Homo sapiens: one gene and its partner. The protein of the gene in region 2 interacts with the protein of the main gene of each other region in a pairwise test. Each region holds a gene or a part of one and is shown on either strand. Other genes may lie near its edges.

Region 1 (3,816 bases), about 39 Mb from region 2:
CATGCACCTGTAATCCCAGCTACCTGGGAGGCTAAGGCAAGAGAATTGCTTGAACCTGTGAGGTGGAGGTTGCAGTGAGCCAAGATAGCACCACTGCACTCCAGCCTGGGCAACAGAGTGAGACTCTGTCTCAAAAAAAAAAAAAAAAGTTTTATTGGAAATTATTTAAGAACACAGTGAAATTATCATGCGTAAAAAATGGATGTTAAAAATGGGTATTAAGGCCGGGCGCGGTGGCTCACGCCTGTAATCCCAGCACTTTGGGGGGCCGAAGCAGGTGGATCACGAGGTCAGGAGATTGAGACCATCCTGGCTAACACGGTGAAACCCCGTCTCTACTAAAAAAATATATAAAAAATTAGCCAGGCGTGGTGGCGGGCGCCTGTAGTCCCAGCTACTCAGGAAGCTGAGGCAGGAGAATGGCATGAACCCGGGAGGTGGAGTTTGCAGTGAGCCGAGACCGCACCATTGCACTCCAGCCTGGGTGACAGAGCGAGACTCTGTCTCAAAAAACAAAACAAAACAAAAAAACAACAAGAAAAAAAAACAGGTATTAAAATGTTTATGGTCCCAGCCTTGTGCTACAGATGTATGCATGTTTGTGAAAGGATGACAGGGAACTTAACAAAGGGTAAGAGTGATTACAGCTATGCAGTAGGATTCAATATTTCAAACTTTTCTGCTCTTTCTCCCTTTCCCCAGTTTTTTAAAATGACTATGCACAATTCTATAACTGGGAAAAAAATCACTACGCATTAGAGGGAGCCACACTGACCATGAGAGAAGCCTGGACTCAGCACTCCACAGGCCTGCTTCAGGAAGCTCTGGACCTCCCCATTCCTGCAGCTGCCCCTTCCCAGCAGGGCGACCTTCCTGAGAAGTACTGACTTCCTCTGGTTCAAAGCCAAGTCTCTCTGGTTTCCAGGTCTGCTTAGACACCCTTGGGGACTAGAACCCAGTTCATTTATTTGTCCAAACATGACAAACAATAAGATGGAAGCCACAGTTCCAAGCTCAAGGAGCTCAGAGCCCGGTCAATAGATGGATTAGGAGACAGTGTGGGTGTAGCACAGCTGAGGTACATGCACATGTGACAGGAGGGCCTGGCCCAGGTTGCAGGGGGCAGGGGAGTAAGGTGGGGGTGAAGGCTGGTTCCTGGCGGCCAAGAGGCAAATGCAGTGGCAGAAAGGCATGAACATGGCCATTCACTATGGCCCTTTACAGTGTGAGGTCAGGTCTTGCTCACCAAGCTAAAGGGGCTGGATTTTATCCTCAAGGCAGTGGGGAGCCACTGAATGATTTTAAGTTGGGTGGAGGCTGGGCATGGTGGCTCCCGCCTGTAATCCCAGCACTTTGGGAGGCCAAGGTGTATGGATCACCTGAAGTCAGGAGTTTGAGACCAGCCCGGGCAACATGGTGAAACCCCGTCTCTAATCAGCTGGGTGTGGTGGCGGGAGCCTGTAACCCCAGCTACTCGGGAGGCTGAGGCAGGAGAATTGCTTGAACTGGGAAGGTGGGGGCTGCAGTGAGCCGAGATCACGCCACTGCACTCCAGCCTGGGTGACAGAACAAAACTCCTTCTCAAAAAAAAAAAAAAAAGTCGAGTAGAGACCCACTAATGTCACTCTAAGCCTCCAAAAGTCTCTCCAGCTGTGGGGGTAGAGAGCAGACCTGAGGGGGCAAGATGGGAAGTCGAGATGCCAGATAGGAGTGATCTGAAGCTGTGAGACAAGAGTGAATATGGGCTCAGTCCAAGAGGGGGCTGGAAATGAGAGGGAGAGAATGAAGCAGGTCTGGGGAGCCTTAGGATGGACTCAGTAACCCATTAGGTTCCTGAGGAAGAGAGGAGTCGAGGCTGAGTCCTCGGGCGCCGTGTACTTGCTGGGCATTGGTCAGGGCAGAGCACAGGTGGAAAATCCATGTCAGCTGGGCATGGGTGGCTGTGGTGATGCTGGCCAACAGTCAGCTGGCTATGTTCTCTGTTGAGATCACAGCACTGCGTGTGGAACAGGGAGAAGAGAGGGGGCAACCCTGGAGGATGACAGCCCTGATTGAGGGAAGGGAGTGGGAAACAGCCAGTGAGGGGTGACGTGAAGGACAAGGGAGGGAAAGGAGGCTGTCATTGGTGGTCTCAGCCCAGCAGAGGCCAGGCAGGCTGGGAACTGGGGGGCCACTGGGGCCTCTGCTGGAACCACCTGGTGAGCCCGTAAGGGGAGGCCCCCACCCCAGGGTCTCCAGCACCTGCCTGGCTCCCCATAGATACTCAACAAATGTGACCGAGGAAGGAATCGAAGGGTAGGGGGTAAAGGGGTGCCCACGGCCCCCTCCCTGGGCCTCAAGTAAGGGAGCAGTGCCCCAGGTACCAGACCCATCCAGCCCTGGAGGGGAAGCATGTGCAGGGCTAAAGGTGGCGGCCAGACCCTCAGGACCAAGGTCGGGTGCTGTCCGTTGGAGGGTCTGCCTCAGACCCCCTGCTAGAGGAGTCCCGGGGTAGATGGAGCCTCCTCTGGCTCAGGGAACACCTAAAGCAGCCTGGAGCATTTGCTGAGAGACAGCGCCACCTAGTGGGCAGGAGGTGCACGCCAGGCCATTACCCACAGGCTCCAGGCCTTTGGGGTTCATTATGGCAGTCTCTGCACCCTGCTCTGGCCCCCGCATCCTGCCCCAGTCCCTGGAGACAACAATCCAGGGCTTCTTCCACCTAAGCAGTGTCTGAGCCTCTGACAGCAGGATCCTGCAGCATCAGCTGAGATTGGCTCTGCGATGGAGAAGGTGGGCAGGTGAGATTTTAACAGAGATCCATTTGCCCACATGGCACAGGCAGATGCAGGGTCCTGCCCTCACATGGGTAAGCCCAGTATGGGACTGGGCTGATTGCAGTTCTGCTGTTATTGTTGTTGTGTTTGTTTGTGGTGTCGTTAGGCTCGCAAAGAAAATAAATATGCTTATGAAACTCTTCCAGACATGGCTGACCCCTCCCCTCTCCACTCCCAGTCCACAGAATTCTCAGAACCTCCTGCAGCTCAGGTCTGTGTGGCTCAGGCCCCGGCAGCCAGGTTAGAGGTATCTTTATGGAGGTAGGGGCAGTCCACAGGGCGCCCCAGCAGCAGGGAGTGACTCCCACCACCTATTCCGCAACGATTCCCTGGGGTCTTCCCTGGCTCCAGCTTCAGCTCCAGAAGACCCCTCCCCGGAGAAAGAAGTAGCTGTGGACAGACACCACCCACCCAGAAGGGCCTGGACTCCACGGCCCACACAGTTGGTCACAGCTGCCAGCTTGCTCCTACTGCTCAGCAGTTTCAGGGCAAGGTCAACAGCTAAGTGGGGTCACTGACCTTCCTCAACAACTTGGCAGAGCTCATTTTTATTCTTAACTGTGGGTTCGGCTAGGCAAGAGTTCTCCTAAAAATATTTTTTTTAACTTTCCCTTATGACAAAGAAACAAATGTACAATGTTAAAATATTAGTTTTACAAAAATGTGTGACTTGGAAAGTTAAAGTTTCTTATATAGTCCTATCCCCTAACAATTATTATTATTATTATTTTTTGAGACAGAGTCTAGCTCTGTTGCCCAGGCTGGAGTAAAGTGGTGTGATCTTGGCTCATCGCAAGCTCCGCCTCCCAGATTCAAGCGGTTCTCCTGCCTTAATCTCCCAAGTAGCTGGGTAGCTGGGACTACTGGCACCTGCCACCATGCTCAGCTAATTTTTGTATTTTTAATAGAGACAGGATGTTGCCATGTTGGCCAGGCTGGTCTTGAACTCCTGGCCTCAGGTGATCTGCCCACCTTGGCCTCCCAAAGTGCTGGGATTACA
Region 2 (3,816 bases):
CTTCCTTCTCTGACCCCTCAAAATCTGGTGGGTAATCCCCTCTGCTGTCCCACAGTCCTCTATGGTTTTGTCCCTATGATGGCATTTATGTACTGTGCTGTCATTGATTGTTTCAGGATCTGTTCCCCTCATCAAACTTTAAACTCCTCAAGGGCAGAGGGCAAGGGCTGTATTGCAAATATACTGAATTCTTACACTAGGCTAGGTCCCTGGCATGTAGCAGGAGACCAGCAAGTATTCATGGAAGAAAATAAGGTCATAGGAAAGGAAGGAAGAAAGGAAAGAAGGACATGAGCTTCCCAAAGCCACAGAGTTGGGAAGTAGGGAAGTTGGGATTTGAATCCAAGCCGTGAAAACATACAACCTCCTCTTAAGGGTAGAGATCCTTTTATTTTATTCTTGCGGATTTGTCTTGGAAGTTGGCACATTAGCATCCTCCTATTAACATGTGTTAATCAATAGACTTTTAAGCTTTCACTGATGAGAGACAGTGGGTGTGATTTTCCAGGATGCCTGTAGCCCTGAGAGGATAGGGTGGGTGGTCTATGCATACTTGGGGCTCCAGTTGATTTATGTTGAGTCCAACCCATTGTAATGATGATGGTGACTCAGATCAGGGAAGAGCTAGCCACTGGCCTGTGCAATGGCCTTCAAGGCCTGTGGGATGGGAGAGCCTAGAAAGATCAAGACACTGAAACTATGCTTCAGGTCAAGTTTTTCTACATGTTTTAGGACTAAAAGAGGCATATAATGATGTAAAATGCAGGGTGTCTTACCACCCCAGAGGCTTAGGAGTGGTTTCTAGAGTTTAAACTCAGTTCATAATCATGAAAAACAGGTAGTTTCCCTGGGAGTTGAATTAAGTACCAAGAATTTCTGTTTTTGGTGTACTTCCCCACAAGCCCCCAAGAAGTTCATAAAAGGCATAGCATACAAAGCACACTGAAAATGCAAATTATTCACTTTAAGATTGGGAAACATTTTTTCTCTCTGAAAATTTCAGTTATCCCCATCCCCCATCACCACTACAAGAACAATACAGCTTTTACAAATTTTTACATTTATGATTTCTCTTTGAGATTTTATTTTAATAAAGAACTTTACTAACTTTTGAAGTTGCAAACCATATGCGACTTTTCGTGTCACTGTGAACCTCTGTAGACTATGATTTGGGACAATGGCCAAGGCAATGGTAGAGTTGGGGAGTGGACAAAGTCCAGCCTATGAATTGAGTGACTAGAGTTGAGACAGAACTCTACCTCTGCCTCCCTAAGTAACTCTGGGGAAGTCCCAATGTCATTTCCTTTTCTATGACAAGGGCATGAAAGGCCTCTCTGCTGACTTCTTGGACCACCCAAAGATCTACTGAGCCACTACCTTGGGGATATACTTTAAGAAGCAAATGACACCTACAAATATAAGTAAATTAGGGTAAGAATAAATCAAAGAAGAATGAAGCTTCATATCTAAATATATTATCTAGATAATGAAAACCTTCACAAGGGCAAAATTGTATTTTATTTAAACTTTGGGGATATTTCTAGACTAGATTACCACCTTCTTCAAGCAAAGCACACTGACTCAGAGTTATTAATTACTGTCTTCAGGGGCTATGGAGGCAAAGAACTTGTGTTATACCGATTTCCTCAATATTGACTGGGCTCTATCTTTTACAGTTCTGGATTCTTATATTCTAAAAGCATTTTTCTGTCTTTTTCTCTCTGGTAAGCAGTCATTTCTTCCGGCAGTCAAAGCTGCTGCCTTTCAGGTTTCTCGATCCCTGCTTCTAAACCACTTTAGATCAGAAAACCTGATTAGTTAAAATAGGGTGCAATATAAGAACCTATTAAGTTCTATGAGCAAACCAAAGGAGTTTTATACGTCTTTATATTCATCTTCCTAAGGTCATGTGCCTCCCTGCTCAAAGCTTTCTAATGCTTTCCATTCCTACCAAAACAAGTCCAGACATCCCAGGCTGGTAAAGTTTTCAAGTCCTTCCATCTTCTGTCCTCAAAGCACATTTGCATTATTCCTCTTAGTGTGCTCCAGGTATTTGCCCATGCTCACCAGTGCTGCTCAGCCTCCTCTTGTGCCTTGAAACACTGCCCAACCTTCAAAGCTCAGTTTCTTACTGAAGTCTCTCCATGCCCTCAGTTACAAATAACCTCTCCAACCCCTGAATTCTCATATCATTTTGTCAGCATTCTCCTTTGGCATTTATCACTTTCTGACTTAAACTAATACATGTTGTTAGGATCATGTCTACTTCTTTTTACTATCCTGAAACCTCCTTGGAGAGGTTCCCTACGATCCCTGTTACTGCCTCCTGCTGAATGAATGCATAAGGGACTGAGCAGTGACAAATATTTTGTCAGCTCTTAGTCTCTGACCCATGTTCGCCAATGTTCCCATAGCTGAGGCTGCTGCATACATAAGCTCCTACCAGATTCACTATGAGTGGGGAGTGACTCTTCCTTGAGGTAACTGGTAAGCCAAGAGTCTGTCCTTCCCTAGCCTCAGGGCACTTGGTCTCCCTCTCCCCTTTCCCTTCCTGGAAGAGGATCTGCATGAAGTATTTCACCCAAGTGGAGTGGTAGGTGACCTGCTGGGGCACTCACCGCTGCCAAGCCGCAGGAGCAGCACGTCCTGGAGCCTCCGGTTAAGGTCACGGAGCTCCTTCATTTCAGACACAAGTGCCCCGTACTCCTTGAGCTTCTTGGCCTGTTGTACCAGCTGCCTCCGAGTCCGCTCCAGCTCCTGCTGGAGGTGGCGCATCTCTTCCTGTTGCTGCTGGTAGTTGCGCAGCAGCTCCTCATACAGAGCCCGGGGCACCACAGCATCTTCTAGACTGTCCATGTCCTCTGTGCCTGGCGAGGCCTCCACGAAGACCTCTTCCGGACACGTGCTATGGCCCAGGCTCAGGCCGTTCTGCTTCTCTAGCCGAGCCACCACTGCCTCGATGCTCTTGTGCGCCACTTCGCTCGGCTTCCGCCCCTCAGGTCTCTGTGTAGGACAACGAGAATCAGTTCAGGCAAGGGCAGCTGGGATTTTCTTGGACTGCAGATCAATATTTCCCCAGACAATCCTAAAATCACAGAATCACAGAACATCAGTGCTTGGAGAAACCTGTGCAAACACTTAGTCAAAGCCCTTCATTTTATAAATGGGGAAACATTTTATAAATTTTATAAATGGGGTTCCGAGTGGGGAAGGGGCTTGCCCAAAGTCATAACCAGGACACTGGTTTCCCAGGCCTGCACTTTTTCCTTTTCACCACTCTGCCTCCTGGATGCATATACCATGACCACCCTTCCCAACTCCCCAGGCCCCAGCCCACCCACAATGCCTAGGCAGTGGCTTGCTCATGGGGGTGTTCAATATGTATTTGTGGAGAATCAGGGAGAAATGAGGCCAGGCCAAGTGATCCCAGAGGACTCACAAATGTCTTCAACAACAAAAACATAAAATTCCTCCCCTAAAGGCAATTCACCATGTAAACTTTTCATCGACAATGCTTTAGATGGAAAGGATGTTAAAAACTCTAATCTACTCTAATCTAGAGCAGAAAACATGTCTTATTTTCTCTGTTTCTCCTCTGCCTACTCACTCAGAACTGGCACTCAGTAGGGGCTTGAAAAATGTTTACTCAACTGAAAAGTTCAAAGAATTCTAGCATTGAAAGGTACTTTCAGTTTAACTGCCTCATGTTACAGGTGAGAAAACTGAGGGTCAGAGAGTTCAGGGAAGGACTACACTTAGGGTCACATAGTGAGATACAAACAGAGCCAAAACCAGAATTTGGAATCTAACTTCCAG

What was found.
Region 1: the proteins of BEND5 (region 2) and CTNNBIP1 interact in a two-hybrid assay, tested with the Homo sapiens proteins (one large-scale study listed by BioGRID and IntAct).

What each region holds. Positions count from the first base shown.
Region 1 is NC_000001.11:9,865,097-9,868,912, forward strand, and holds part of CTNNBIP1 (beta-catenin-interacting protein 1), read right to left. Parts: intron 1-3,816. UniProt on the Homo sapiens protein: Prevents the interaction between CTNNB1 and TCF family members, and acts as a negative regulator of the Wnt signaling pathway.
Region 2 is NC_000001.11:48,756,282-48,760,097, forward strand, and holds part of BEND5 (BEN domain-containing protein 5), read right to left. Parts: intron 3,086-3,816; exon of another isoform or gene 3,004-3,085; coding exon 2,619-3,003; intron 1-2,618. UniProt on the Homo sapiens protein: Acts as a transcriptional repressor.